7 linked regions of the Homo sapiens genome follow. The protein of the gene in region 7 purifies or fractionates together with the protein of the main gene of each other region. This does not show direct contact. Each region holds a gene or a part of one and is shown on either strand. Other genes may lie near its edges. The genes, in order: KLHL25, STIP1, INSR, GLB1, SYNM, MLF2 and DNAJB4.

Region 1 (3,352 bases), on a different chromosome or scaffold from region 7:
TTAGCTCCCGCTGTGGCAGACAAGCAAGGCCACGCTGTGACACTGAAGGCCGCGGTCTGTGGAGGGAGGAGAGGAAGAGAAAATCAATCAGTGGCCACATTGTTCTGTTCTGACCTGATCTGGAACAAAATGACAATGACACAGCTGCCCATGAGGCTCGGGCGTGAGAACGCCAGATCCACCATTCACCGGCAGCGCAGTCTGGTGATTCAGGCACCCCAGGCCTGCTTTCCCCACTGAGTGGCAGGTGACTCAGGTGTCAACTTGATTGGATTCGGGGATACCCAGACGCCCGGGGACACATTACGTATTCTCAGTGCTGGAAGGGAAACCCAGGCGGCTTGGTACTTGATTCGAATGGCCAGGCCGCCCCAGTGAGTCTGTGCTTCCAGAGGTGACCGGCGTGAGAGCCGTGGTTGCAGGTGAGCACCATCAGATGGGCAGGGGCCCTGGTGGAATAAAAAGCTAAGGAAATGGGGACTCAGGTTTCTTTCTTCTGGAGCTAGGTTGCTCTTTTCCTGCCATCGGGCATCAGAGCTCCAGGTTCTCTGGCCTCTGGGACTTGCTGCCCACCACCCCACCCCCACCCCAGGCTCTTGGCTCTTTGTCCTTGGGCTGAGGTCTGTCCCCAGCTCTCCTGGTTCTGCAGCTTGCAGCCTATCATGGGACTTCTCAGCCTCTATCACCAAGTGAGCCAATTCCCCTAATAGAGTAAGTTCCCTCTCACATACCACTCCGAGGCCCTGAAAGGAAAAGGTGAGCCCTCTCGCACAGGCGGGCACAGGCAGGCGGAGCACTCTAGCAACCCTGAGTGTTCATGCACTCCATAAGGCAAGGAGCCTCAGCAAAGCAGTGATTAATGGTGACGCTGTCCGCGGTTTTTGGCTTTGGTTGTATTTAAGCTGTACGTGTTAGTTTTAGTTGTGTAAGAACAAGAACATAAGGGGCTTTCTAGTTGTATGCTTGTGTGTATTAAGTAACCTTAGTTACATTTCAATTAAACACTGAAGCCAGCACTGAGGCTCCACGGCTGTCCCCTTTAAGTGGGGTACACCTCTCCATCCCACACAGTGCTGGGCCGTCTGTTCTCTGAAGGCTGCTTTGCAGGAATTCTGCCCTCCCCACGTGCTCAAGTTGTTTCCAGATACAGAGGCTGGGTTCGGCGACTGAGAAGGCCCCCAAATCCCTTCAAGCTCCTCACAAGTGAGAAGCTGGGGTCACAGGGGCCCTAACCATCCTGAGATGCTCTAAGACTGCAAACCCGAACCTCTGGGGCCTGGCTGCCCGGTCTTGGCCCCATCCCAGCACGCCACATGCTGACATGTGGTCCCTTCAGGGCAAGGCCTCACTGCTACCTGGAACTAAACAGCCACGCTACCTACCTGGGGGTGTCCCCCAAGGCACCCTGAGTTGCTGAAAGGAATACAGATGACAGCTAGAGGCACAGGGGTTGGGGAGCCTCGGGGCCAGGCTCCTGTGTTCCCTCTCAGGCTGGGTCCCTTTGTTCCCTCTCAGGCTGGGTCCCTTTAATTTTTGGCAGGTGCTCCCTGGGGCCTGGCCTCAACTGTGAAATGGGCTAATCCTCCAGCTTGCAGAGTGGACAAGGGTCAGCGGCCGCCCTGCACTTCCTGTGTGCAGCAGGTCTTGGCCAACGTGCATCCTGTGGGTTGTTGGTGTAGGGCCTGCCCCACTAGGCTCAGCCTGCCCCATCAAGGGTGGGATGCTGCTCTATCCCCCAGCCTGGCACAGGAACGAATGACTGCTGATGCCTGGACGGACGGACTCCGTCCTGGGCACTTGCTTAGCCAGGCCCAACCCTCAAGGCTGGCAGAAATCCTCAGGCCTGTGCTCTGGGATTTCCCATCTGTAGCAACTTCTTTAAGACAGGAGAGAATGTACTGTACTGTCCCTCCTGCAGCAGTGACGGAGCCCACAGTGGATTAATGAGCTCGGCCTTTCCCAGAGCCAGGACTGGAACCCTGCCCTGCACCCCAGTGGCTAGGCCCCAGCAACACCCTGAAGAGAAGACAAGCTGTCGGCAGCCGGATGCCTGCCTTGCATTCGGCAGCCCCCCCATGCTGGAGGCGGGTGGGAAAGAAGGGTTGGGAGTCTGCGCCTTAAAGGGCCTGGAGTACGGGGTGCCCAGTGGGAGAGAAAGAGAGAGAAGGAGAGAATGTTCACAGCAAGATCACCCTTAGTGGGTAAGCGGGGGCCTCCTGCAGCCGCTGGCTGCTATCCCCTAGGCTGTGGATCCAACCGCAACACTGGAGCAAGGGGCTGCCCTGGAGGTCGCTCAGGTTCCAGCTCAGCAATTCCCCGCCGCTTCTGGACGGCTGCTGGCCAAGCCTGTGCTCTGTGCCAGGGGCGCAGACGTGAGGATGCCCGTGGCCAGCTCCCCAGAGGCGCCTGCAGGCAGGCGGCACACTCAGGGCTCAAGTCCTGCTCCAGCCCTGACTCACCATTCATGTGATGCCAACTGTCTCACCTCTCAGAGTCCTAGTGGGCGCCCTCCAACAGCAGGACCTACGACAAACAGCTCTGGAGAATGACAGGGAACTCGATGCAGACGCTCACACCTATGAAGAGCTCCAACAGGTGGCCAGAACAGGGGAAAAAAAATGCTTGTGGACAAACAGGGGCCATGATCTGGGGTGCAGAGGCCACAGTGTGCAGGGGACCTCCTGGTGGCTTCTGAAGCTAACGTCAGAGTCTTACAGGATGGATGGAAAGGGGCCTCCAGGGACAGGGGCAGTTGGGCCCAGCTGGAGGCAGGAGACTCAGCCATGCTCGTGGGGACTAGCGAGAGCTGGACTTCTCACCAGCATCCTTGGCCTGATCCCCACTGCTGCCTGGGAGAGTAGCGTCAGGGAGGGAAACGTAGGGAGCGGGGTGGTCACAGAAGCCATCTCGGGCCCAGGCACTGCCAGACGACATTCTAGGTGGCAGACGACGATGCGCTGGTTGGGGCTGCAGGCAGCCAAGCTCAGTGGGAAGTGCCATGGTCACCAGGGGCACCCACCGCGGGGGAGGTGGCAGGAGTGCTTTGTTTCCACCCTTCCTGGCCCCGGTCTGCGGCTGCCTGAGTTGGGGGCTCTCCTCTGGCTCAGCCCTGACAGCTCCGCAGTGGCCGCCTGAGCAGCGAGAGCTCTGCTTGCAGCCACTGTGGCTCCATTTCCTGGTGACCCAGGGAAGGCCAGGCATGCCCGGGCAGCGGCTTCTGGGCTGCAGGCCCTTCTATGGAGAGCCCAGCTCACTCCCTGCCTTTGAAGAGAACTCGGACACTGAGCTGTCCAGGCAGAAGCTGGACAGGAGGAGCTTTGCAGAGCATGGGAACAACCCAGGGTCATAGTGA
Region 2 (4,302 bases), on a different chromosome or scaffold from region 7:
CCCCAATCCCCCAGCTGCAGGCAGTACCTTTCTGAAAACACTCGTTGCCTTTGTTCTTCTCCTCCAAAGCCAGGTCGGGGTTTATGTAGGCCAGCCGCTCTTGCTCCTTCAGGATTTTCTCTGCCTACAAAACATAATTCTTGAAATAATAATTTAAACGCTCATAATCATCTAAATATTGGGCTTAAAAATCACATTAGGGGCCGGGCGCGGTGGCTCACGCCTGTGATCCCAGCACTTTGGGAGGCCGAGGCGGGTGGATCACGAGGTCAGGAGATCGAGACCATCCTGGCTAACATGGTGAAACCCTGTCTCTACTAAAAATATAAAAAATTAGCCTGGTGTGGTGGCGGGAGCCTGTAGTCCCAGCTACTCGGGAGACTGAGGCAGGAGAATGGCGTGAACCCGGGAGGCGGAAGCTTGCAGTGAGCCGAGATCGCGCCACTGCACTCCAGCCTGGGTGACAGAGCGAGACTCCATCTCAAAAAAAAAAAAAATCAGATTAGGATTTTAATTTTCAGAGTATTGCTGGCAAGATTTTTTTCTTTTTTTTTTTTGAGATAGAGTCTCGCTCTGTCGCCCAGGCTGGAGTGCAGTGGCGCGATCTCGGCTCACTGCAAGCTCTGCCTCCCGGGTTCAACGCCATTCTCCTGCCTCAGCCTCCCGAGTAGCTGGGACTGCAGGCGCCCACCACCATACCAGGCTAATTTTTTTTATTTATTTAGTAGAGACAGAGTTTCACCGTGTTAGCCAGGATGGTCTCGATCTCCTGACCTCTTGATCCGCCCACCTCGGCCTCCCAAAGTGCTGGGATCGCAGGCGTGAGCCACTGCGACTGGCTATTGCTGGCAAGATTTTTTTTTTTGAGATGGAGTCTCACTCTCACCCAGGCTGGAGTGCAGTGGCATGATCTCGGCTCACTGCAACCTCCGCCCCACTGAGTTCAAGCGATTCTCCTGCCTCATCCTCCTGAGTAATTGGGATTACAGGCGCCTGCCACTGCGCCCAGCTAATTTTTTCGTATTTTTAGTAGAGACGGGGTTTCACCATCCTGGCCAGGCTGGTCTTGAACTCCTGACCTTGTGATCCACCCACCTCAGCCTCCCAAAGTGCTGGGATTACAGGCGTGAGCCACTGCACCCGGCTATTGCTGGCAAGATTTTAAAAGAAATTTACAGTCTTTATAAAATAGTCAAAATGTTATGTTACAAGAACTATTAACATTCTCAATGCACAGGCCCTCAATATTAACACATTTAGGGTTGAAATCTTGGCCAATACCAAAAACTGCAAAAAAAAAAAAAAAAAAACCACAAAAAAAAACACCAGATCACTTCCTACATGTTGTCACTGTTAAATGACAGAGAAAGAATCATGTAAGATGACCAAAGCCACTACCTAAAAAAAGATCAGGTTCAGCCAGGCATAGTGGCTTACGCCTATAATTCCAGCACTTTGGGAGGCTGAGGAGGGCGGATCACTTGAGTTCAGGAGTTCAAGACCAACCTGGGCAACACAGTGAGACCCCTTCTCTACAAATAAAAAAATTAGCTGGACGTGGCCAGGCGCAGTGGCCTGTAATCCCAGGACTTTGGGAGGTTGAGGTGGGTGGATCATGAGGTCAGGAGTTTGAGACCAGCCTGGTCCATATAATGAAACCCCATCTCTACTAAAAATACAAAAATTAGCCGGGCATAGTGGCGTGCACCTGTAGTCTTAGCAATTCGGGAGGCTGAGGCAGGAGAATTGCTTGAACCTGGGAGGCGGAGGTTGCAGTGAGCAGACACCATGCCACTGCACTCCAGCCTGGGTGACAAACAGACTCCATCTCAAAAAAAAAATTAGCTGGACGTGGTGGCACGTGCCTGTAATCCTAGCTACTCAGGCTGAGGTGGGAAGATCACTGAAGCCCAGGAGGTTGAGGCTGCAGTGAGCCACGATTGTGCCACTGTCTTTCAGCCTGGGTGAAAGAGTGAGACCCTATCTCAAAAAAAAAAAAAAGTCAAGTTCATTATTAAATAAAACAGTAAGAAACAATGGCTCAATTATTAGGAAAACAAGAAAATACCCCTATTCTTTTCCTACGCACCTGCTGGCATTTCTTGAGCACATCTGGGGTTCGGTGCTCTGCCAGAGACTTGTTATAGAAATGGATGGCATCCTTGTACTTTTCTTCTTTGAAGTAGGAGTTGCCAATTCGAGCATATGCTCTGATAAAGAAAGAGGGACAAGGACTGCTTAGGACAGAGAGATAAAGTCAGCTCCTGCAGAAAAACACACCTGCAGCTAGAAAGGCCCGCATCACTGCCTTCAACACCTTTTGTCTTGTCTCTGGTGACCTTCTTGCCAGCCCTTTCTTAACACAGCAGATTCTATGGCCAGCAGCCCTCCTCCCCATGCAGAGAAACTTAAGTCTTGGACAGCAAACCCTCCGCGCTACTCAAGGTATTCTGGAAGGTTGAGCCTACTTGGCAATCTGTCGATAGTCTTCTCGGTTTTCTCTCCCCACTTCAATGGCCTTCTCACAAAGCTCCCGGCACTTATTGTAGTCGCCCTTTTCAAAGTATACCGCTGCCAGGCAGGATGGTTAAGAAGGAACAGTCAGTCTTTGCTTCCTCCCTCAGAGACACCCAACAATTCCCTTGCCCCTTGTTTCTGGGCCTCACCTGCTTGATTGGTAATGTAAGTCATGTTAGTGGGGTCCAGCTCCTTGGCTTTGTCGTAATGCTTCAAGGCTGTGTCAAAGTCTTTCTTCTTGTAGGCATCGTTCCCCAGCTCTTTTTCTTTCAGTGCCTAGATGAGGTTTAGAAGTGAGTGCTGAGCAAATCTAACTCAGGTGACAAAGCAAGAATCTATGATCTGTCACAAGTTCTGAAATGCAACTAACATGAATAGAATTCTATCAAGTTCTCCTGAAGGCCTCTTCATCAGTCAGCTATAGACAATAAAGTATCAGCCGTTAGAATGAAAACTAACTTCATCTTTGCTTGCTCTGAAACTCCCCCTTTTCCACCTACTCTCCTAGATCTTTGTCAGGAAGCAGAGCGCTTCTTTAGGGGAGAGGAAATCCCTTCGACTTGAAGCAACCGGTGAGGACAGCAGAGTTTTGGACCAGGCTTTATTCTGAGGCTGCAGCAGATCTGGTGTCAGTCTTGTGGTTGCCTCAGGGTCTTAGTTGTCAGGGAACCATAGCAGAGGGGGTGGTGAGAGGATGAGAAGCGGCTGAGTGGCACGAGTCTTCAGCAAAGCTCACTACCGCCCACACTGGAGGGCCTTTTTCCAGCTGAGACACCCTAAACAACCAACGCTTACCCATTTCAAGGTGCTAAATTTGGCAACAATCTGCTGTTCCAGTTTACAAGGAGGGAAATGAAATCGTTGAGGCACATGCCTTCTGCTCTAAAAGAGTGCTGCTTAGCGGACACTCCCAACCACACACCATGTCCAGCCAGGAAGCAAAGGCCTAGGGATTGATGTGGACAACATTCTTCGGATCACGACAAGGACGTGAATTACTCTCAACTTTCCAGTCTTGCTAGGACCAACATTCACACTGGCAGCAATGAAGCCGCTGTGGTGACCACGGGAAGGGCAACTCCCGCAGCTCACTCTTTGCTACACATTACTCCTAGGAATGCTCTTGTGAAGCTTTTTTTTTTTTTTTTTTTGAGATGGAGTCTCGCTCTGTCACCCAGCCTGGAGTGTAGTGATGAGCTCTCAGCTTATTGCAACCTCTGCCTCCCGAGTTCAAGCGATTCTTCTGCCTCAGCCTCCCGAGTAGCTGGGACTACAGGCGCCCACCATGACACCTGGCTAATTTTTGTGTTTTTAGTGAAGATGAGGTTTCACCATGTTGGCCAGACTGGTCTTGAACTCCTGACCTCAGGTGATCTGCCCACCTTGGCCTCCAAAAGTGCTGGGATTATAGGCATGAGCCACCGTGCCTGGCCTGAAGCTGATTTTTTAACATGCTGGCCATTCTAATGAATAATAGCCATAAGCTTAGCGCATACTAAAGCACTCAAAATAGTTTTAGGTGGGCACAGTGGCTCGTGACTGTAATCCTAGCTGAAGCAGGAGCATCGCTTGAGGCCAGAAGTTCAAGACCAACCTGGGAAACACAGCAAGACTCCGTCTCTAAAAAAACCATAATAATCATGGTCAATCAAGGTCAACAGATGTCCCCATTCAACATAAAGATTTCTAGTTGTTTATAGATAGGTGACAGTGAGGAGAGAAAAAAACAAGACCTGCTTCTTATTCTCTGGAAGATCTTCTTCCATTGGCTCTGGCTTGGTCTCC
Region 3 (4,302 bases), on a different chromosome or scaffold from region 7:
AAGGCAAAAATGAGCTATTTCAGTGTAGTTTCAGACCAAAGCCTGGGACCCCCACACTTCCTGGAGGGACCGTGAGAAGGCAGAGGTGACGCTGCTATTCCCTTAAGGGTCTCCTCCCCATGTGCCTGGCTGAGTATGAATGGGGGAAGATTCAAAGGTAAGAGCCAGTTTTGCAACTTGGCCACTCACACTCACGTAAGCCAATGACTTGACTCAGCCAGACAGTCAACTGAATAAGCGCAGTCTGTACCCGCGCAAGAAGGACAACCGGCCAATAGTTATTGGAGGAAGGGATTTCCAAGGGTGATGTTTGTCCTGACACAACGTTGTCTCGCATATGGACTTGTAAGACTGACCTGGAAGGAGGTGCAACTCCAGTGCAAATAAACCTATGCCAAGTGAGTTTAGAGACCCTGCAGATCATTAGACATCGGAGAGACGCATCTAAGTAATTCTCTCTGCCTAGAAGACAAACCCTCTCCTAAACCTCACCCCAACCTCGCTCTCTCTCCTTGCACTACATTTTTTTTGAGACAGTCTTGCTCTGTCACCAAGGCTGGAGTGCAGTCCACCTACCGGGTTTAAGCAATTCTCATGCCTCAGCCTCTCAAGTAGCTGGGATTACAGGCACCCACCACCACGTCCAGCTAGTTTTTGTATTTTTTTTTTTTAGTAGAGATGGAGTTTCACCACATTGGCCAGGCTGGTCTCGAACTCCTGACCTCAAGTGATCTGCCTGCCTCGGCCTCCCAGAGTGCTGGGATTCCAGGCGTGAGCCACCATGCCCAGCCCTTGCACTACATTTTGACATAAGTAACTAACTCCCCATGAAGGTATCCCAGAAGCCCTTGGCAGCTCACTGTTTAGAATCTGTCAGGGAAGTGCAGTCAGCAGGCAGCCTGCAGCTGCAGAAACTGCAGGACCTGCTGTAGCATTCCAGCCAAAACCTGACTCTCCCTGGACAGCCCCCACCTATGACTGAGCTTGGTAGATGCCTGGCCGTCCCTTTGCAATGCAGAACTTCCCTGCAGACAACCGTGGCCTTGATCTCTTTCTGGGTTTGGCCAAGACTCAGGGATGCATCACCATCTGAGACTCTCCCAGCCCTATCCTCCCTCCTTCCCGCTCTCTGTTCACAGAGGTCAGACACACGCTATTGTCAAAAGGCTCTTCATGGCTGAGCGTGGTGACTCACACCTGTAATCTCAGCACTTTGGGAGGCCGAGGCGGGAGGATCACCTGAGGTCAGGAGTTCAAGACCACCCTGGCCAACATGGCAAAACCCTGTCTCTACTAAAAATACAAAAAAAAAAATTAGCCGGGCTTGGTGGCATGTGCCTGTAATCCCAGCTATTCTGGAGGCTGAGGCGAGATAATTACCTGAACCCAGGGGAAGGAGGTTGCAGTGAGGCAAGATCACGCCACTGCACTCCAGCCCTGGGTGACAGAGCAAGACTCTGTCCCAAAAAAAAAAAAAAAAAAAAAAGAAGCTCTTCCTCTGTTTCATATTTTATGAATATTACCCTCAATACATTTTCTGCACTCCTAACTTCAACTTGGCAGTCACTTCCCAGGAGATGCAGACTGACATAGGTATTTTACTCAACTTTGAAGTCTTCAGCATCAGCCTGATACACATATAAGAAGGTGTCATCCATTCATCCATCATTCATTCATCCATTCATTCAGTGCTTGTATGACTTCATCCCGTATCCGGTACTATATGGCACAGTAAGCATAGTGATAATATTAATAAATGTGCAGAATCTGCCCTCAGTAAGAAAGCCTATCACACAGTGAGTTGTTAGAGGGAAGTAATACCCCCTGGGGGTGACTGTGATGGATGAGAGAGGACAGCCACATTATCTGGTTTGTGGACCACTTACAGCAGGGGTCCCCAGCCCCTGGGCCACAGACCAGTACTTATCCATGGCCTGTTACGAACAGGGCTGTACAGCAGGAGGTGAGTGATAGGTGAGCAAGTGAAGCTTCATCTGTATTTACAGTCACTCCCCATCGCTTGCATGACCACCTGAGTTCTGCCTCCTGTCAGATTAGCGGCGGCATTAGATTCTCACAGGGGTGTGAACCCTATTGTGAACTGTGTACATGAGGTACCTAGACTGCACACTCCTTATGAAAATCTAATGCCTGATGATCTGTCACTGTCTCCCATCACCCCCAGCTGGGACCATCTAGTTGCAGGAACACAAGCTCAGGGTTCCCATTGATTCTACATGATGGTGAGTTGTACAATTCTTTCATTATATATTACAATGTAATCATAATAGGAATAAAGTGCATAGTAAATGTAATGCACTTGAATCATGCTGAAACCATCCCCACCCACCACCAGTCCATGGAAAAACCATCTTCCACTACACCGGTCCCTCATGCCAAAAAGGTTGGGGACCAGTGACTTACAGGATGCCTGGTCCCCATTGGTCTTCAGGGCAATGTCGTTTCTCTCCTGGCGCCCCTTGGTTCCTGAAACTTCTTCCATCTTGTGGATTTCTGACAAGCAGAGTTTGGGGTTATAGTGGAAGAAGAGTTTCCCCTGAGTGATGGTGAGGTTGTGTTTGCTCCAGTCCCAGAGCTGCCTTAGGTTCTGGTTGTCCAAGGCATAGAAGGAGTAGTTCCTATGGAAAAAACACACACATCTAGTCATTCAACGGCTGGTCTTCTACAACTCCAAGATGGTGTGGCCATGCTCGGAGTTGATCTTGTTCAGTGCTACGTGCCTAATCCTCTCCACTTGCTTGGCACATACTCAACACATATTTGTTGAATGTGGATAACAGAGGAAGTTGAGGAAGTTTTCATGGCCAGGAAGGAGGCTCAGCTCAGTCTTGAAGAGGGGTGGTGAGTCTGTGATGGACTGAGGAATAGGTTTTGCAGAAACCAATTTCTGCAAATAGGGGAAATACTGATAACACAGAGGCACCTAAGCTGAGTTCAGGGAAGAGCAAAGTAGCCTGTTTTGGCCAATAGGTGACAGGAAATAGCTGTAGTTGCAATGGACCAGACCCTCTAGTATATTGCATGCCAGACCAAGACCAAGAACATGTGGCCATCCTTAATAAGGAGAAAGGAGCCATTGAAGGTTTTTGTTTGTTTGTTTGTTTGTTTTATTGAGATGGATTCTCACTCTGGTGCCTAGGCTGGAGTACAGATAATATAGTCTAAACTATATTGTTTAGACCACCTTCTCAAGTCACTTACCAGCTCATGTTGATTAACATGTCCTTTTGTCCCTTTCCCCATTTGCTGTCTGTTCTACAGATGTGAGGCTGGGGCTGAGGCAGCCATCTTGTGACCATGAGGAGCACAAAGATGGAAAGAATCTGGGTCTTCCACAGACCTCCTGCCTATGAGTCAATCTTGATCTAGCTAGTTTGAGTTTCTGCTGTTTTGCTAATAGAGTTTCTAGGACCTCAAGGAGAAGGTTGGAATATACTGGAATATACTGAGATGGAGTCCATCCCAGAAATTAGGATGGACAACCGGGACTAAGAGGGAATGTTCATTTTATGCATGCCAAACTCTACTCACAATGCAGCCCAAACAGCAAATTTAGCAAAAATTCCAGCCTGTACCCTTGGAGGATGGGCACCAAGGTTGGGCTGCTCCCACTTTTGTTTCTCAAGAATGACTATAAAAAAGCTTTTACAATTTTTGGCTGGATGGACCTTTAGGCACATTCCAAGTTCTTTTTTCCCGAGGTTTTGCCAGATATACTTTTATTTGTTTTTTATTTGTTTTTATTTGATTTTTAAAAAATCCTTAAGTTTTTCCTTTTCTTTTCTTTTTTTTTTTTTGGACAGAGTCTCACTCTGTCACCCAGGCTGGAGTGCAGTAGTGTGATCTTGGCTCACTGCAACCTCTGCCTCCCAGGTTCAAGCTATTCTCCTGCCTCAGCCTCCCAAGTAGCTGGGATTACAGGCATGCACTATCACACTTGGCTAATTTTTGTACTTTTAGTAGAGACAGGGTTTCACCATGTTGGCCAGGCTGGTCTTGAACTCCCCGCCTCAAGTGATTCACCCACGTTGGCCTCCTAAAATGCTGGGATTACAGGCATCAGCCACCACACCTGGCCAAAAAAATCCTTAAGTTGTTCTAATACACGAACTTCCTAGTTAGCACTCAGGCCATACACACAATCAGGCCCACGTACCCAATTTCCAAGGTCTCTCCTCGAATCAGACGTAACTTCCGGAAGAAGGAAAGTGACACCAGAGCGTAGGATCGGCGGATTTTTAGATACCCTGAAATTTCTTCAATGAGGCCGAGGTTGGCTTC
Region 4 (4,302 bases), on a different chromosome or scaffold from region 7:
AGCCAAGGAATGGCACGCACCACACAGGCTTCATGCTATGGTCAGGACACAGGCCAAGCCAACTCTTGACCAAATCGCAGGTGAACAAAGTGGAGGTTTGGTCCTTTCTCAAACCTCAAGTTCCATTTCATAAGCATCCAAGAGATGGGCCCTCACATGCCGGGTGGACTGTGCACCTGGTAGGTAAGCTGGGAATTGTTTTCCCTGGATCCCCTTCCCTGGATGGTTCTGGGTTAGCGTTGGTCAGAAGAGGCCCTTGCTTGAGATTGGGAGGGTGGAGAGAAGCAGCAGCCATTGCTCTGGGGAGGTTATCGTGCAGTGGTGCAATCCTGGCTCGCTGCAGCCTCCGCCTCCACCTCCCAAGTTCAAGAGCTTCTTGTTCCTCCGCCTTCTGAGTAGCTGGGAATACAGGCGTGCACCACCATGCCCAGCTCATTTTTGTATTTTTGGTAGAGATGGGGTTTTGCCATGTTGCCCAGGCTGGTCTCCAACTCCTGGCCTCAAGAGATCCGCCCACCTCGGCCTCCCAAAGTGTTGGGATTACAGGCGTGAGCCACCATGCCTGGCCTTTTTCTTTTTCTTTTTTCCTTTTTGAGGCAAGATCTCACTCCAGACACCCAGGCTAGAATGCAGTGGCACCATCACGACTCACTGTAGTGTCAACCTCCCACCTTAGCCTCCCACATAGCTGGGACTACGGGCATGCCCCACCATGCCTGGCTAATTTTTGTACTTTTTTAGAGATGAGGTTTCGCCATGTTGCCCAGGCTGGTCTCAAACTCCTGGTCTCAAGTGATCCTCCCCCATCAGCCTCCCAAAAAGTGCTGGGATTACAGGCATGAGCCACCTCGCCTGGCCATGCACATGTTTCTTACAGGAGGGGAATGCTAGGAATGGAATTGCTGGGTCATGGGATATGCATGTGTCCAACTTTAGTGATACTATAAAGAGTAGCTATTTTTTAAAAAAGTGTGAAGGAGGAATTGAATTTTCACATTTAATTAATTTAAACTTAACCATATGTGGTTAAAAATGAACGTTCTTGTAAAGAATATTATACAAGGCCAGGTGTGGTGGCTCATGCCTGCAATCCCAGTACTTTGGGAAGCCAAGGCGGGCAAATCACTTGGGGTCAGGAGTTCGAGACCAGCCTGGTCAATATGGTGAAACCCTGTCTCTACTAAAAATACAAAAATTAGCCAGGCATGGTGGTGGGTGCCTGTAATCCCAGCTACTCAGGAGGCTGAGGCAGGGGAATCGCTTGAACCTGGAAGGTGGAGGTTGCAGTGAGCTGAGATTGCACCACTGCACTCCAGCCTGGGTGATAGAGCAAGACTCAGTTAAAAAAAACAACAACAAAACAAACAGAAAAAACCCAACAATATTATACAAGAAGCTACTGCACTGGACTACAGAGCTAAGGTATGGTGAGATCCTAGTGACTTCATTATTAGACCATCAGTCTTCCATTTCTCTCTATCCTCACAGCCTGACTTCCAGAGCAAGTCATAAATCAATGTTGTCTTAGACTGCTGCAGCCTCCTCACAGTCTCTTGACTTTATTAACTCTAGAATCTAGGCTCTGCATAGCTGCCAAAGTGAAAATAGGATTCTTTTCACACATTCCTGTTTCAAACCTCCTTCCTGTGGTCCACAGCCCATACCTTCCTCCTTTCCTCCTTGTGTCTGCCGCACTCCCCCTTGCTCACTCCACTCTCCACTACTTCTTGTTCTTTCCTTCTCTTTCTTCTCCTTCTTGTTCTTCCTTTCTCTCTTCTCTTCTCCTCTCCTCTTCTCCTTCTCCTTCTTCTCTTCTCCTCCTTCCTGTCTTCTCTCTTCTCTCTCTCTCTCTCACTCTTACATCTTGCTACATTGCCAAGGTTGGACTCCAGTTGCTATTCACAGGCACAATACAGCCTCAAACTCCTGCCCTCAAGCGATCCTCCTGCCTCAGCTTCCCGAGAAGCTGGATCTTCAGATGTGCATCACCACACACAGCTCCCCAATTACTTTCAGTTAGTTTTGCTTGGGCATCAGCTCGTCCCCATGTGCAAACACTACTCACCTCAGCCTGAAGCCTTCTCATCACTCAGGCAGGGCCACGACCCTCCTCCTTAATGCTGGGCTTTCCATTCCAAGTCACTCACTATCCTTTCATTTTTTCTTTTTCTTCTAGTTATTATCATGATTTGAAATTCATATCTTTTGTTTGATGACTAGTTTATGAGCTATTTCCAGCTATAACACAGGCTCTAGGAAGGGAAAGTCTTTGTCCATTTTGTTTGAGGCGAGATTCTCCGCACGCAGGAGAGTGATATTCAATATACACTTAGTAGCACTCATGGCTGCTGCTACTTGTTGATAATTCTGCCAAGAAAAGATTCGTTGAAGAGGTGACATGAAGCCCTTCTGAAAGAATTCTTCACGTTCCTCTGCTCCCAGTTTAAGAGTTTTAAAGAATATTGTTCACTAAAAGAAAAACATTTGCCTTCCCTCCTTGATTAGAACCAATGAAAAACACTTTAATATAATTTACCTTTAAAAATTCTATTTAAAAAATATATACATTGATTTTTATTTCTCTTAAAAAGTTATGCTTTTGCAATTATTTTTGGTGGGGAGGTATGCACGTGTTGCTGAATATGATCTAAAAGTAGATACACTCTTAATGAAGTCAGCCCCATGGGGACCAAGCAGTGGTTTCTGGGGCTTCCTAAGGCAGTCTCAGTTAAAATAGTTCCATGACAAAGTGACTTTCTCTGACCACGGCTTGACCCTGGCAGACTCTCCACCCTTTGCTGTAATCACTAAGGCAATAATAATAGTTTCATAAATGTGAGGTTCCTGGAAATGCCTGACCTACTTTTTTGTTGATCAGACAGATACATGTGTTTGTCTGTCTGTTTTAAACTATCTGGATAAATGGAATTTAAAACAAAAGTCTCCCTCCCTCCCTCCCTCCCTCCCTTCCTTCCTTCCTTCCATCCTTCCTTCCTTCCTTATGAGGCAGGGTCTCACGCTGTCATTCAGACTAGACTGCAGCTGCACTATCATAGTCCATTGCAGCCTCGAATTCTTGGGCTTAAGCGATCCTCCTGTGTCAGCCTCTTGAGGAGCTGGGACTATAGGTGTGAAACTATCGGGGGGAGGTATGCACGTGTTGTTGTTAGCCATCATGGCCAGCTAACTTAAAAACTATTTTTAAAAATAGACATAGAATCTCACTATGTTGCCTAGGCTTGTCTCAAACTCCTGGCCTCAAGTGATCCTCCTGCTTTCACCTCCCAAAATGTTGGGATTACAGGTGTGAGCCTCTGTGCCTGGTCTCACTACTGTTTTAAGTTGTAGTTTAAAATTTTCCAAAATTTTTTGGGAGCTCCTTTAAAAGCAACAATAAGCTCAGGGTGAATGCTGCCTTTGTCACACTCTGAAAGAAAACATTTAGACACTTGCAGGACTTAAAATGGGAAAGACAAAGGTCCAGTTCCCAAGGTTAAAGGCTCTCACACACCGAACTCATGAATCACTGTGATGCTTACCTGGGAGAAAGAGAAGAAAAAGAGGAGAATTGAAAAGAAAAAAAGGTAAAAGCCTCTTACAAGGCTTGCTTAGAAATAAGAGGTTAAATAGATCTCAATGAAATACACAGAAGATTAATTCTCCCCTTCCTTCAGAACCCCAAAAGGCTCTGCAGCTGACGCAAATCACACTTTTTTGCTTCCTCCTCAGTCTTAAAGTAATAAAATTAAATAACTTTATGGTTTCTCTATATTTTGGGACAGGTCCAAATAGAACTGAAGCCATCAAATGCATAAAATAACAGCATAAAAGATAAATCACTTCTCATCAAATCCCAAATAAAAATTCTTTTTCCTTCTCAACTTCCAACAGTTCCACCATAGCTAGACCTTTTTAATACAATAGCTTACCTAACAACAGTCGTCAAACCACCTCACGTATCTGGAACCAAGCTAGGAACTGATAAGCAAAAACTACTGCCTCATGTCATATTTGTTATAAAGTTCACAACCTAAAAATTGAAGAAGACCTTCTTTCACTTCTAGCCTATTTACCCATTTACAAAAGTTCTAACAAGTTTTGTTGCTAAATTAACATAATATTTGTTGAGAGTAGTCTGATGGTCTAGTTTCAAAGTTCACGGGACTTGTGCAACTGGAAACAGTGAATTAGACGGAAATAGTAGGTCTTGTAGGAGGTAAGCATAACTGCAAATTAGACAAAAAAGAAGTTTAACAAGCACATCAAATTTAGGATGAAAGTAGGGTCCAATAGTGTTAAGAC
Region 5 (4,302 bases), on a different chromosome or scaffold from region 7:
GGTCCATAATAAATATGTCTGTGAAACCAAGGAATGAACTCTACAAGATTGCACATGGAATTTATCTTTTTGGTTGTTTTGTTTGTTTTTGGAGACAGTCTCGCTCTGTCACCGAGGCTGGAGTGCAATGGCACAATCTCGGCTCACTGCAGCCTCCACCTCCCAGGTTCAAGTGATTCTCCAGCTTCAGCCTCCCAAGTAGCTGGGACTGTATACAGGCGCCTGCCATCACGCCCAACTGATTTTTGTATTGTTAGTAGAGACGGGGTTTCACCACGTTGGCCAGGATGGTCTTGAACTCCTGACCTCAGGTGATCCTCCCGCCTCAGCCTTGCAAAGTGCTGGGATTATAGGCACAAGCCACTGCACCCAGCCAGAATTTATCATTTTTTAAAATGCATGATCAGCCAATAAATATTCCCACTTCTCATAACAGTTCTATTTCTATGCCAATGATGGCTGTTAGGTTCCCTGAATATAAAGGGTCCTGAAGTAGTTTAAAACCCCTTAGCTTTTAAAGCAAAGAAGTAAACTTAAAAATCACTGGCTTATGTCCCAGGGTGGAAAAACGATAACAGATCCCACAGCTGGCATTACAAACAGAGAAGCTCACCAAAGAGCAACTGCCAGTCTTGATGTAAGTGACAGCACTGCCACAATTTAGCCACAATATTCACACATTCTAGAGTTAAATCTCAATGTCAAAATCCTACATTCCCCTGTTTTAGAGGGAATACAATTCAGGTACAAGGTTCTCATACAAGATGGGCTGTAGGTATGCATGTATGTATGTATGTGTGTCCTTCCTACTACAGGAAATTTGACATAACTATTACAAATTAAAAATTTATAGTAATTTATTCCTTACAAAGAAGTTCAAATGTTGTTAAACTGCTTAGAAAAAAAATACGATGAAAGCTCTCCAACCACAAACCTCCTGAGCAGGTCAAGAAAGCCTAGTCACGTGGAAGGGGTGTGCAGGAAGATACTCCTCCCAGAGCACACAGAATAGTTCTGCACCCACAAAATACAAAGAGGAAAATCAAACTGTGTTGAAGTTGGAATAAGTACAGTTTCAGTCACATTTCCATGTGAGTCAGCTCCTCCTAAATTGTCAAAGGAAAATTAGTTGACGTTTGGAAGCAGGAATATAAGACTTAACTGGCTCCCAGTGGTCTCTGCAGAAATCACAACAAATCCTGCTGTGGAATAAAACTTCAGACTTGGGCTCTGCTTGGCCAGTCAGCAAGCTGTGGGTCAGGACAGAGGCACTGGAGCCCCAGACACGGGACGCTACATCTCACCCGAGCAGAGGCAGTTTCACCTAATGCTGCAAAAGCTTGGGAGAGAGGTCACCTTTTTGCTATTTAGAGAACTTTTGGGCAGCATCACAACCGATGATGAAATCTTGCTCCACACCAGGAAAGGCATGCTGCTGTCAGTATCAAAAGAATTAATTTTCTCTTAGCCAAACTTGAGCTACCGCTCACTGAGCAAGCCTGTGGGACAGTTCACAAATATCACTGTCATTTGCAACCTTGAAAGGTAGAGCTCCAGGGGATTTAAATACTGTGATAACTTCAGCTACACACAAAAATTAAATGTATTCATAACAATAAGCACGAACTGGATGCCGACGAAGTATTTATAGCTTAGCCCAGACAGCACCCTGAACTCAAGTTATATTTTACAATTCCAGGTGGGTGTGTAAGAAGCATCTCAAACTGAACACACGTACATGGAACTTGAATCTCCCACCCAGGCCCGTCCTCCTAACCAATGCCCCGCAGTAAAGCGTATAAGAGGTACCGGAAGTAGCTCCCAGGGTGTATACAATTGGTTCATTCGTTCAACTACCAGCCGTTGAGCATTTAGTGTGCCAAGCGCAGTTCTTCATGGCTGCGGATTCAGCAGTGAAAAATGCCACGTAAAACAAGGAAAGTCCCTTCTTCCAGTTGCTCAGGCCACAACGCCTGAAGTCCACTGTGATTTCTCCCTCTCCCATCACATTCAATCTGGCAGCAAATGCCGTTGGCTTCAACTTGAACGCAGGGGCCCCTCTGAGACCCCTGGTCCAAGCCTCGAGCACTTCCTGCCTGGGTTACTGCAACAATCTCTGAAGGCATCCCTGAGTCCACTCAGTCTATTTTTAAAACAGCAGCAACAGTGATTCCACTAAGCCACAGCCAGGCCCCAACTCTCCTCGGCTCAGAACCTCCAGTGGCTTCCCATGGCACTCAAAGTAAATGCCCAAGTCCTGCAGTGGCCACTCTACCCCCTGTTCACTGTGCCCTAGCCACACCGGCAGCCTGGCTGAGGCATCCCCGAAAAACCACACGCTGTTTCCACCTGAAGGCCTCTCAGGTCAAGGGACTTTCTTTGTTTTACGTGGCATTTTTCACTGCTGAATCTGCAACCATGAAGAACTGAGCTTGGCACACTAAATGCTCAACGGCTGTTAGCTGAACGAATGAACCAGTTGTACACACCCTGGGAGCTACTTCCAGTACCTCGTTTCACAAATGGGGAAACTGAATTGCAGACAGGTTAAGGAACGTAACCTGCCCAAAGAGCGGCAGAGTCAGAATTCAGGGCCAGGTAGGACAGCTGCAGAGCACTGACCCTTAGCTAATCCCATCCTAATCCCACCCCACCTTCCCATCTACAAAAAGCTTTCATTCAATCATGTTTTGGGGGCTTGGAAGCCTTTTCCAGTCAGCCTCAGCAGCTAAGGGCTCACTTTCATAAGCAAAAATCTCCGTGTTTGCAGGGTGAAGCTGGTCTCCACTTTATCGCAAATGTCTTCAAGTGTTTTCTGAAGCCCCCTCCTGCAGCCTGGGTGTGTCACTCAGGCTTCAAGTGATCTAGATCACATTTGGGAACTTGGATGTCAGTTCAGCAAACTCTTCTCGGGCAAATCTGAGGCCAGGCCTGGGGCAGGCCAATGACTACCGCCTCATACAGTGAAGGCGCATGGGCCATCTGGGAAGGACCAGTTTCCCCTCAAGTAGAATCCTAGCAAGCATCTTCCCCCTTGAGCCACAGAAGCTATAGCCAGAGGCAGGGAGAGCTGGGCACAATGTGGCAGCACCCTCTGCTGCCTCCAGCTCCTGCCTCCAGGGGAGGGGGGCATTAAAGCACATGGAACACAGAAAAAAAGAAATGAAAGAAAATAGTTTTAATGCCAAAACTATTCAGCCAGCTGGAGGGGTCTAAAAGCATTTTAGGACTTGAAATCAGCAGAGTACCTCGGGCTAGCCCTTAGGAAGAGCAATTATCATTATGCTATGAATGCAAGAATACTGGTTAAAGGTTTCTCTCTGATCAAACAGACAGAAGAGAGAAACGGACGCCCAGCGGTCAGTTGCTCAGGCACTAGAGCCTGAGTTGAATCCTGGCTTAACTACTTACTAATCAGGTGACTTATGTGCCTCAGCTTCCTCCTCTGTAAAATGGAGCTTATATTAGTACCCACTTCGTAACACTGGTGTGGGCACTGAGAGTGAATATTTGTGAAGGGCATCTGTGGTACCTGGCACACACGAAGCACTTGCTAAAGGCTCTTAGTAATAAGATATTTATTACCATATACTAATTCAACCCATTTTTAGGATTTTTTCACTCTCCCCATAGTAAGCTTCTACAGAACCCGAAAAAAATTACAGGCTTGGGGTTAAATCATCCATACTCCCTCTTTCACATACTTCCTAGCATCTCTGTGATTGGTGCTGAATCTTCTGGAATGCAATTTGAAATGGAGTTGACTTAAGTTAACTGAGGGAAGATTCAGTATATGGACAAGGTAGTGACTGGTAACACTTAGTGCAGTAAAACCTCTGCAAATTGGAACTGGAAAAAAAAAATGGCCGGGCACATGGCTCACACCTGTAATTTCAGCACTGTGGGAGGCCACGGCCGGTGGATCACTTGAGGTCAGGAGTTTGAGACCAGGCTGGCCAACATGGTGAAACCCTGTATCTACTAAAAATACAAAAATTAGCCAGGCGGGGTGGTGGGATCCTGTACTCCCAGCTACTCGGGAGGCTGAGGCACGAGAATCACTTGAGCCCAGGAAGCGGATGTTGCGGTGTGCCGAGATCAGCCACTGCACTCCAGCCTGGGCGACAGAGCAAGACTCCGTCTCAAAAAACCAAAACCAAAACCAAAACCAAAACCAAAAAAAAAACAAAACAAAAAACAAAAAAAAAAACCAGGTCCTTATTGACATTTTCCTCGCTCTTTGCTTTTAGGAAAAAGCAGCAAATTCCAACAAGAGAGAAGTATCACTGGATGGCAAACGGA
Region 6 (4,967 bases), on a different chromosome or scaffold from region 7:
AGGCATCACCCCTGGTGAAGGGATTTCACCCTTCAGCTGCCTGTTCTAGCCTGTATCTTTCTCACAAAATGCAAGAACTGAAAAAACATCAGGCCTCATCATTACCCTCCCAAATTCCTCTGAGTCCAACCACGAGCAAGAAGGACCTGAAGAGACAGGGCCTTAATTGTATGCTACGTAAGAGAGCTGCTGCCGGCTGCTTCAGGCAGGCATGACAGCAGGTACAGGGTCCCAAGGCTCTCTGGTTCAATTACTTTATCCAGTACTTTACCCTTCACTAGCATACTGTTTCCCTCTTGCCTTAGAGGATGCAAGGTGTTGTCAGCCATCACTGAGAGCAAGGCCGGGGAAGGGTATGGGGCAAGTCTCACCATGTTTCCAATCATGTCATTCATCATCCCAAACATGTCCATGAAACCACCCGACTGGAGGAAAGAGATGGAAAACAGAGTCAGGAAAGCAAAGTCAGTGTTCAGAGTTGATCCTGTTTAGGAACCCACAACCCACATGGCTGCACATTTCCTTTCTCTTCTTCCTTCACATCTAGCAAGTTCTCTTTCTCATTCTGTTAAAATAACCAGAATACTCATATTTCTCCTCCTGTGAACTGCTGACCCCTTCCTCAGTCTCTGTGACTGCTGTGATCCAATTTTCCTTCTCCTGCTTGCTATATTCCCCCCATCTTTAGGAAGCAAGCCAAAGTAATGGATTCTAAACTCTAAAGAGGTAAGGCATGAAATTGTTAAAACCTACCAAAAAATCATCTCTAGTTGGCCCTTTAACTGCACTTCCCTCCTCAAAAGAACAAATTTTGCTAGACAATTACATCTTCCTAATGCGTATGAACTTCTAGGAGTACAACAGTTAATAACATCTTTTCTTTTTTTTTTTTTTGAGATGGAGTCTGGCTCTGTTGCCCAGGCTGGAGGGCAGTGGCGCAGTCTCGGCTCACTGCAATCTCCACCTCCCGGATTCAAGAGTAGCTGGGACTACAGGTGTGTGCCACCATGCCTGGCTTTTTTGGTATTTTTAGTAGAGACGGGGTTTCACCATGTTGGCCAGTCTGGTCTCGAACTTCTGACTGCAAGTGATCACCCATCTCGGCCTCCCAACAAGAGTTTAACACCTTTAACCCACAGGGCTCCTAGTACCCAACAGGCTCAGAGCTTTGTGAATGCCATAAAAAGAGAAGATTCTGGGGTTACTCATGAAACTATTCCTAAGAGGCACATTTGGGAATAATATCTAAGGGTAGAGAGTGTGTCTGAGATGGAAGGACACAGGGAGATAAAGACTCACCATTCCCAGCATCCCAAAGGGGGAGACAGCTCCAGCCTACAGGAACACATGAGGAACAGAAATTAGAGACCACATCCTATCTCTTTACAATCCCAAACCAGGCCCATGGCCTCAATTTTTTTCCATCCTCTCAAAAGGGAGTCACAAAGCCCTTTTTCCTGACCCTTTCCCCAACTCCTAGAGCATTTCACTTGCTCAGTTGGCTGTAGTGCAAGAAAATTAAGTGCTTTCCTAACTAACCTCCAACCTTTCTTTGGGTCTCAGGTGTGTCTCAGCATCATTACCTGCTGCATCCGGCGGCTGGCAGGCCTGGTCCCTGGCATGTTGCCATCTGTGATGCTGAGGAAGGGGCTATATCCAAAGCCACCTGACAACATACGGCTCATATGCTGACGGTGAATAGCAAAGGGATCCCTGTGGAGTGAGCACATAGTATGGATGGCAGAAGCGCCAAACTGTCAATCCCTCCACCACCCTGCAAAAAAATACGCACAGAGCAACAGTGGCACCGATGCCTACTTCCTGCTAGGTAGGAGCTAGGTATCCAGCCAGTTCCAACCATTCCTAGCAATGGGAACCCCGATGTCTGCCTGAACTGCTCAGAGACCTGGAGTGGGAGAGCTTGAGGGGGAGGGAATACTCACATCAGGAACATGGGATCCTCAGGCTCCACGTCCCTCATGAAGCGGAACATCCTGATCTCAGCTCCAGGGGGCTCCACACTGGAAAGATATGGAAGCTCAGATACTTGGAGGTGGCCAGGGTTTTGCACACCCACTCAGTGTGGGGACTCTCAGAGCACTGTCCTTTCCAAATCCTGTAACTGACCCCCTAAACTCCAGGGAGACCCTACTCCAGGTGTTCCACACAACCCTCTAGGGAGGGAAGGGCTCTTCAAACCTCTTTCTCAATTAGGGCCATGGAAAATTTTTCCAACCCTCTCGGTTTTTCCCTCCCCCACTCAGAGCCATCCTCTTCCCAAAGCTCTGGCCGGTAGCATACTCTCCCCTCCTCCCGCCGACGACACCGTTCTAGATGAGAATGCCAAGTGCAGGTCCTCCGCCCCATTAATGACCCCAGTCACCCCGCCCCCTCCTTACACTCAGGCCTCCCCCAGGCGGGCCTCACTAAGCCCCCCGCGCCTGTCTGCGACTCCTCTAGCTCCCGCCTCCCCGCCAGGCGAGCAGGAGAGGTAGGCCTGAGCCTCTCCTCTCCCCACCCCGCATCCCGGGCTCCCAGACCCTGCAGCCCCGTGGGCCCGCTCCCGTCCGGGGCTGCCAGCTCTGCCCGAGCCTCACCAGTGCCCGATTCGGGCTCAGCGGCCCATCCGGCCGGTTTCGCTTCCCGGTACGCTGCAGGGTCAGGGTCGCGGCCCGGAACGTGGGGATTGGTCCGGGCTTGAGCTCCTCGGCCTTCCACGCCGCCTCCTCCCACAGCTGCCACCTCCGTACGGCCCCCTCGGCCAACGGAGCCCGAACCTCGGCCAGGCCCGGGCGGAAGTGACGTCACGATAGACCCGCCCACCCGGGGCCGGGCCGTGGGAGCCCCGCCCCCTGGCGCGGGTGGTGAGATGGCTGGGGCCGAGTCCCAGGGGCGCCGGGGCCATGGGCCAAGCTCAGGGGAGCAGAGCCTGAGGCCGAGAGGGGTCCCCTGGGCACGAAGAAGGGGAGCTCATTAGTAACCTCGATTTGGGTTCTGTGGACTGGAAGAGGCTCCCATAAGGCAGGGGAGGAGAAGGAGAAGAGGAATCCATTCTTCGGGAGGGACCGGGTTGGAGGTTGAACCTGGGGGCGCAGTGCAGCACGTTCTCTCTCCCTCCTCAAGGGGAAACTGGAGGACGAGGGGCAGATGCCCCTTGGGGAGAGGCGGGCGCTCTGTGGGCGACGAGGCGGGGCGGATCCCTGGGGGGAGCTTTAAGCCGACTCTACTGGAGAAGCAGTCTACCCTAGAGGGAGGATGGGCAGTTTTCCTGCGGGGGAGGCGCTTGGGCCTGTCCCCGCTTGAGGAGGAGCGTTCCTGGCAGGGCGGAGTCCCCGGAGTGACGCAGAGGAGGTGAAACTCTCCAGCCCAGATCTAGTTCGGGCTTCAGAAAGTCGGATGGGGCAGAGGATCCAGGTTGGGGGGTTGGCCGCCAGATGGCGCTCCTCGGCCAGGCTGGAACCGGAGGCCCTTGAGAACTCGCGTTGGAGAGGGACCTGGACCCTCCCCCGTTACCCATCTGTGAAGGGTTGGACTGGGGAAAGGCTACAGTTCTGAATCTATTAGTTTAATGCCACTCTCCCCTTCCTTTTACTCTAATTCTTGTGTCCTCAAGAGCTCCCAGTCCTGCACTGACCTTTCTTGGTTGCTTTCTTAGGTCAAAGGTCTAAAGTTTGGGGGAACAAAGGAGTGGAGAGCTCAGTTAACCTGGATCACCCAGGGGAGGAGCTAAAACGGGGCCCAGAAGACCTGCCTCCAAGGCCAGAGACTGATACTTTGACATACTAAATGTCTTGCATAAAATCTGGCTCTGCTGGAGAGAAGGGCCTTCCCCTTTGGGGTCAGGGCATTTGGACTGTCTAGGATGGACTTTAACCAGACTCATCCAAACTCCAGCTTTCCCTGGTTCTTTACTCTGGCTTTTAGCCATATTAGTGCTGTGTGGAGTCTGACCCAATGAGAAAGACTTGTTCCCAGTAATTCCCTGGGGGAGAAAGAGGGGGTCCCTGGTGACTCAGGAAAAGGTGCTAGGAACAGGGCTTCTCACGTTTCTTTGGACTTGATCATTATTAAAGAGGAAAAAACAATAATAGAGACAGGGAGCAGAGATAGATAATTAAGATATAAGCTGACAGACTGGCAAGTCAAAGGAAAACAGACAGAATACAAGTAAATTTGTTTTTCATTGCTATTTCTGGGGGAAGAGACTTAGTAAAATCTTCTGTCTTCCAGATCTCTGCACTTCCCACCATGCAACTTCCCCTTATCCTCTTGCCCCAAATGAAAGCAGTTTGACATGTGATCAAGAGTTGTCCCAGTAAAGGTTCTGTGGCTGAAACTTAACTAAAGAGATCCTATCCATTTTTTTTCTTTTGTCCTCTCCTCCTTCTAAAGCAAGTTCTTTATTGTCCAGCCAATCAACAAATGTTTAAGGCCTGGCGCAGTGGCTCACGCCTGTAATCCCAACACTTTGGGAGGCTGAGGCGGGCACATCACAAGATCAGGAGTTCGAGACCAGCCTGACCAACAAAGTGAAATCCAGTCTCTACTAAAAATACAAAAATTAGCTGGGCGTGGTGGCACATGTCTGTAATCCCAGCTACTCAGGAAGCTGAGGCAGGAGAATCGCTTGAACCCAGGAGATGGAGATTGCAGTGAGCCAAGATTGTGCCACTGCACTCCAGCCTGGGCGACAGTGAGACTCCGTCTCAAAACAACAACTACAACAAAAACGAAAATTAGCCGGGCATGGTAGCAAGCACCTGTAATCCCACAAGTAGGCTGAGGCAGGAGAATCACTTGAGCCTGGGAAGTGGAGGTTGCAGTGAGCCGAGATCACGCCATTGCACTCCAGCCTGGGGGATGGAGCGAGACTCTGTTCCAAAAAAAATAAAAATAAAAATAAAAAGCAAATGTTTAATGAGGCCTGGAACTGTCCTAGGTACATTGTATTAAGCATACATACAAAA
Region 7 (4,029 bases):
ACAGTGTATCTAAATGGGATTTTTTAATAGAATAAATGAGATATTCTGAATAAACGGCAAACAAATATAATACTTTCCTGTGAAGGAAGAATAATTCTAAAAAATAATTCAAATAACTTTCATTCAATTGTATTTTCTTTTTTTCCTTTTCTTTTTTTGAGATGAGGTCTCGCTCTGTCGCCCAGGCTGAAGTGCAGTGGCTCGATCTCGGCTCACTGCAACCTCTGCCTCTTGGGTTCAAGTGATTCTCCTACCTCACCCTTCCAAGTAGCTGGGATTAGAGGTGTCTGCCACCACACCTAGCTAATTTTTGTATTTTTAGTAGAGACAGGGTTTCACCATGTTGGCCAGGCTGGTCTCGAACTCCTGACCTCAGGTGATCGCCTGTCTCGGCCTCCCAAAGTGTTGGAATTACAGGCATGAGCCACGGCGCCTGGCCCATTCAATTGTATTTTCAAGTAACCTATAACTAGAGAATGGTATTTCTGCATAATATATTTCTATGTTTTAAAAAAGGCATTCTCTCCTCACTCTTTCCTTCTATCACTTATATCAATTATGTAAGTTAAAAAAAAAAACCCAGGGTATACAGATTCAGGGTGATTTAGTTTTTAAAAAATTCACTCATTGTGTAATGACCAATAAAAATTAAATGAGAAAAATCACTCTAGAAAAGCACTATTAAGAGATAATGTTAAATCAAGAAAAATGTATCATTTGGTGACTTGAAAATTCTGAAGACAAATATCCTTACTAAACCCTGGATCCAATGGCTTAGCCACAAACTTGAGCTATCAGTGAATTGTTGCAAAATATTTTAAATACAAAGCAGTGGATATCTGCTTTTTCACAGGAATTCACAGTGTCATTCCATGTTTGTGAATTTCTTTACAAAATTACAAAATTACTCCTTTAGAAATAGTAGTACATTATTGGTAGTATCTCAGAATCCTGCTTAGCTTTTGAGATAAACCAAGTCATGATATTTTGGGTAATATGGCCATAGGTATCATGCAAGATTGAACTGCCCAGTATTTGCCTTTTTCAATATTTACTTTGTAAGAACCTGACACTGTAGGTCCTCACCACACCAAAACCTGCAACATAAACTTCAATTTTGGGCAACTCATAGACCAAAAAAGCTAAACAAAACAAAAAGGAAAAAACCCTCTATATACAATCACCCTGCTTGTCTACATTTAATTTGTTTCATTCAAAATAAGCAGTCACTGCTTGACTATATTTTAAGGATATATTTCTAATTAGGAAAATTTGATGTTAAATGTAATAAAGGAATCAAAGGGATAACAAGTTTTCATAGCTACAGTGATTTGAAAGCCAGTATTTTGGGAGAAAAACTAATAATAAAATAACTTAGTCCTGATGTTAAAAGTTGAAAATCCCCAAAACAGTACAAGTTAAAGTTTTTTGTGTTATCAATTAGCAATTTAAAATAGTCTTACTTCATAGCCCCGTTTATATGGAAGTGATGGACAAACCTGATTTAAAATGCAGAATGAGAAAAGGATAATCTGAAATTATCCTCCTTTACTGTGCTCACTAGTTTTTGATCTCACAATGCAAAAAACAAAAGTATGGCAGGGAGAGGAAAGGGAAGTTGTCATGTTTTTCTCTATACCTAGATAGTAAAATTTCTAAATAAATAATGTTATCTAAAAGTAAATCAGTAATTATTCTAACTAGGTGGCCATTTTAGGTCAAAAATTGTATTTCTGAGATTTCATTTTCTTGGCACAAAATTATTGTTTACAATTAAGCTAAAAACTTGTTCTGGTATTTTATGACATCAGGAAAATTCTTTCCTCTCCAGGCAGAATGCCAAAAACAACTAGAAGCTAAATGCCTGCGCCTTCTGCTTCTGAGAGTCACAACTCTGTCTTGTTCAGTCTAAACTAGCCTTGCTATAAGAAAGGCAAAAAACTACTTTTTGTTTTTGTGAATAAGCTATAAACTACTCAGAATCTGAAATGCCAATCTTAAGGTTTTAAATGACTAAAGACTCTTTATTGGTTCTGGCAGAAAATTCATTAGAAAACGAAACAGGTTTCATAAGACTTTTGACACAATTTACTAATAGGTATGGGAATTCAAGGTTTATTTTAAAATATACATTGTTAACATTGTAAGTCTAATGATAAAATATGTATAATACAAAATGCTAAAATAAAAAAGGCAAACAAGGACATTTCATTCATGGCTCTGCAATACTCATTCATATGATCAGAGATGAAACCTTGTTATTATACATTTGTCCTTCTACTTTTGATATGACTGAGAATCCAATTTAAGGATAACCTTAACAAGCTGAGAGAGAGGGGAAAAAGGCTGGCAGAGAGAGAGAAAAAAAAAAAAGAGACAGAGCTGAAGAGACAGAAAGATATACAGAGAATACTTACCTTCCTCCCCAAACTGATCATATATTTCTCTCTTTTTAGGATCACTCAATACTTCATAAGCTTCTGCGACCTCTTTAAATTTTTCCTCTGCCTGAGGAGATTTGTTCTTGTCCGGATGAAATTTGAGGGCTTGTTTTCGGTAAGCCTTTTTAATATCTTCATCTGAAGCTCCTTTCTCAATTCCCAAAATGCAATAATAGTCTTTCCCCATTTCGAATGCCTTGAAATTAACTTAGATTTCCCTTTGTAAAAGAAAACAGCGTCCCCAGTCTTAGCAACAGATTCTAAGAAAAATAAACCAAGCTGGGTATTTTAAAAGTTAATCAGCAATTCAGCTAGCTGTCTTAAGGCAGCAAGCAGACAGCGTCTCTGTATTCAATCCTTCCCCAACGGCTCACTTACAGATAAATATACACTACACAGGAGACAGCCTCCTTCTAGATCCTCCCATTTTCACTACGTGTCTCTGTACTTTCTAGAACAGCAAATGCTACAGGACGTCACTTTCCCAGCTGCCTCTAGTCAAAGTACTGAGCTATGTTTTCTCCTCCTCCACGATTAACTATTCATTTTCCGACTAGCTCTACCGTCTTTATTTCCTAATTAAACAGGACAAATGGGTTAACATGCCAATATTTCAACACAGAATGTCACAACTATATATTTATGTACTCCATACTAGGTGAAAATCATCACAGTCATTAAACACCCTATGTTAAAAGAAGTTAAAGTTAATATACAGATAAAAGGAACGACAATTCTACTTTAGGGATTTTTTAATTTTAAGCTATTTGTCTGTTAAGTATATAATACCAAAACGCAGGTTGTTTAAATTAGGATTTCCAAGTAATTTATGTCGTCTTCAAAATTCCTGGGGTCTATCAATCAGAAACGCCAGAAAGTTTGTGTACTAGTTTCACATTGTTAAGGGAGTATCTATAATAAAATTCAAATGCGTTATTTTAAAATAAGTAAAGGACTTAAACATGATTTTAGCTAACTAGTTATTTCTAGTATACATGAGTTCATAGTTCTGGCAAACAAATACTTATTTTTGAAATTTTAGTATCTGAACTTAGTTACTTCAACTAAACTAAAACTGAATGAGGTCCCTGCCACCCCTCAACCCCCGTCCCCTGCAGCCGCCCCACAGGATCCCTATTTAAAGAACTGTGGTGCTGCAGGAAAGCTAGAACAAAGTATCAGGTTACAGACAGTACATACTCATGTTCCTTACAAGACTTAACTGCAACTGCATCAATGTAAAATTTGGATATGCCACTTAAGGGGCAGTAATATGAGAAATATTTTTTCTTTCAAAAACACATTTCCCTAATTATAAATATATATTCATTGTTGGAGATTTTGGAAAACGCAGAAAAAAGTTTTTAAAAATCTCCCTATAATATCATTTTAGGTAATCCCTGTTAAATATTACTGTATTTACTTCTAATTCTGTTTTCTATAAATCTTCATGGTTATTTGCTGTAGTTTTATAATTTTTTGTTAACAAAGTTAGATCATAGCATTTATATACCCTTTTGATGCCTGCTTTTGAAAGTATAACATATTTCAGGTATTTATGAGACATTTTCTATGTATATAACTCATC

What was found.
Region 1: the proteins of DNAJB4 (region 7) and KLHL25 purify together in Homo sapiens (co-immunoprecipitation; one large-scale study listed by IntAct). This does not show direct contact.
Region 2: the proteins of DNAJB4 (region 7) and STIP1 purify together in Homo sapiens (affinity purification with mass spectrometry; 2 studies listed by BioGRID, with this or other methods). This does not show direct contact.
Region 3: the proteins of DNAJB4 (region 7) and INSR purify together in Homo sapiens (co-immunoprecipitation; one large-scale study listed by IntAct). This does not show direct contact.
Region 4: the proteins of DNAJB4 (region 7) and GLB1 purify together in Homo sapiens (affinity purification with mass spectrometry; 3 studies listed by BioGRID and IntAct, with this or other methods). This does not show direct contact.
Region 5: the proteins of DNAJB4 (region 7) and SYNM purify together in Homo sapiens (affinity purification with mass spectrometry; 3 studies listed by BioGRID and IntAct, with this or other methods). This does not show direct contact.
Region 6: the proteins of DNAJB4 (region 7) and MLF2 purify together in Homo sapiens (affinity purification with mass spectrometry; 2 studies listed by BioGRID and IntAct, with this or other methods). This does not show direct contact.

The regions. Positions count from the first base shown.
Region 1 is NC_000015.10:85,760,956-85,764,307, forward strand, and holds part of KLHL25 (kelch-like protein 25), read right to left. Parts: intron 57-3,352; 3' UTR 1-56. UniProt on the Homo sapiens protein: Substrate-specific adapter of a BCR (BTB-CUL3-RBX1) E3 ubiquitin ligase complex involved in various processes, such as translation homeostasis and lipid synthesis.
Region 2 is NC_000011.10:64,195,762-64,200,063, reverse strand, and holds part of STIP1 (stress-induced-phosphoprotein 1), read right to left. Parts: coding exon 4,251-4,302; intron 2,794-4,250; coding exon 2,667-2,793; intron 2,572-2,666; coding exon 2,469-2,571; intron 2,211-2,468; coding exon 2,090-2,210; intron 125-2,089; coding exon 28-124; intron 1-27. UniProt on the Homo sapiens protein: Acts as a co-chaperone for HSP90AA1. Mediates the association of the molecular chaperones HSPA8/HSC70 and HSP90.
Region 3 is NC_000019.10:7,168,113-7,172,414, forward strand, and holds part of INSR (insulin receptor isoform Long preproprotein), read right to left. Parts: coding exon 4,178-4,302; intron 2,640-4,177; coding exon 2,425-2,639; intron 1-2,424. UniProt on the Homo sapiens protein: Receptor tyrosine kinase which mediates the pleiotropic actions of insulin.
Region 4 is NC_000003.12:32,999,383-33,003,684, forward strand, and holds part of GLB1 (beta-galactosidase isoform a preproprotein), read right to left. Parts: intron 1-4,302.
Region 5 is NC_000015.10:99,107,836-99,112,137, reverse strand, and holds part of SYNM (synemin), read right to left. Parts: intron 1-4,302. UniProt on the Homo sapiens protein: Type-VI intermediate filament (IF) which plays an important cytoskeletal role within the muscle cell cytoskeleton.
Region 6 is NC_000012.12:6,750,342-6,755,308, forward strand, and holds the start of MLF2 (myeloid leukemia factor 2), read right to left. Parts: upstream 2,801-4,967; 5' UTR 2,598-2,800; intron 2,576-2,597; exon of another isoform or gene 2,541-2,575; intron 2,022-2,540; 5' UTR 1,994-2,021; coding exon 1,944-1,993; intron 1,714-1,943; coding exon 1,584-1,713; intron 1,336-1,583; coding exon 1,300-1,335; intron 426-1,299; coding exon 372-425; intron 1-371.
Region 7 is NC_000001.11:78,003,710-78,007,738, reverse strand, and holds the start of DNAJB4 (dnaJ homolog subfamily B member 4), read right to left. Parts: upstream 2,801-4,029; 5' UTR 2,629-2,800; coding exon 2,418-2,628; intron 1-2,417. UniProt on the Homo sapiens protein: Probable chaperone. Stimulates ATP hydrolysis and the folding of unfolded proteins mediated by HSPA1A/B (in vitro).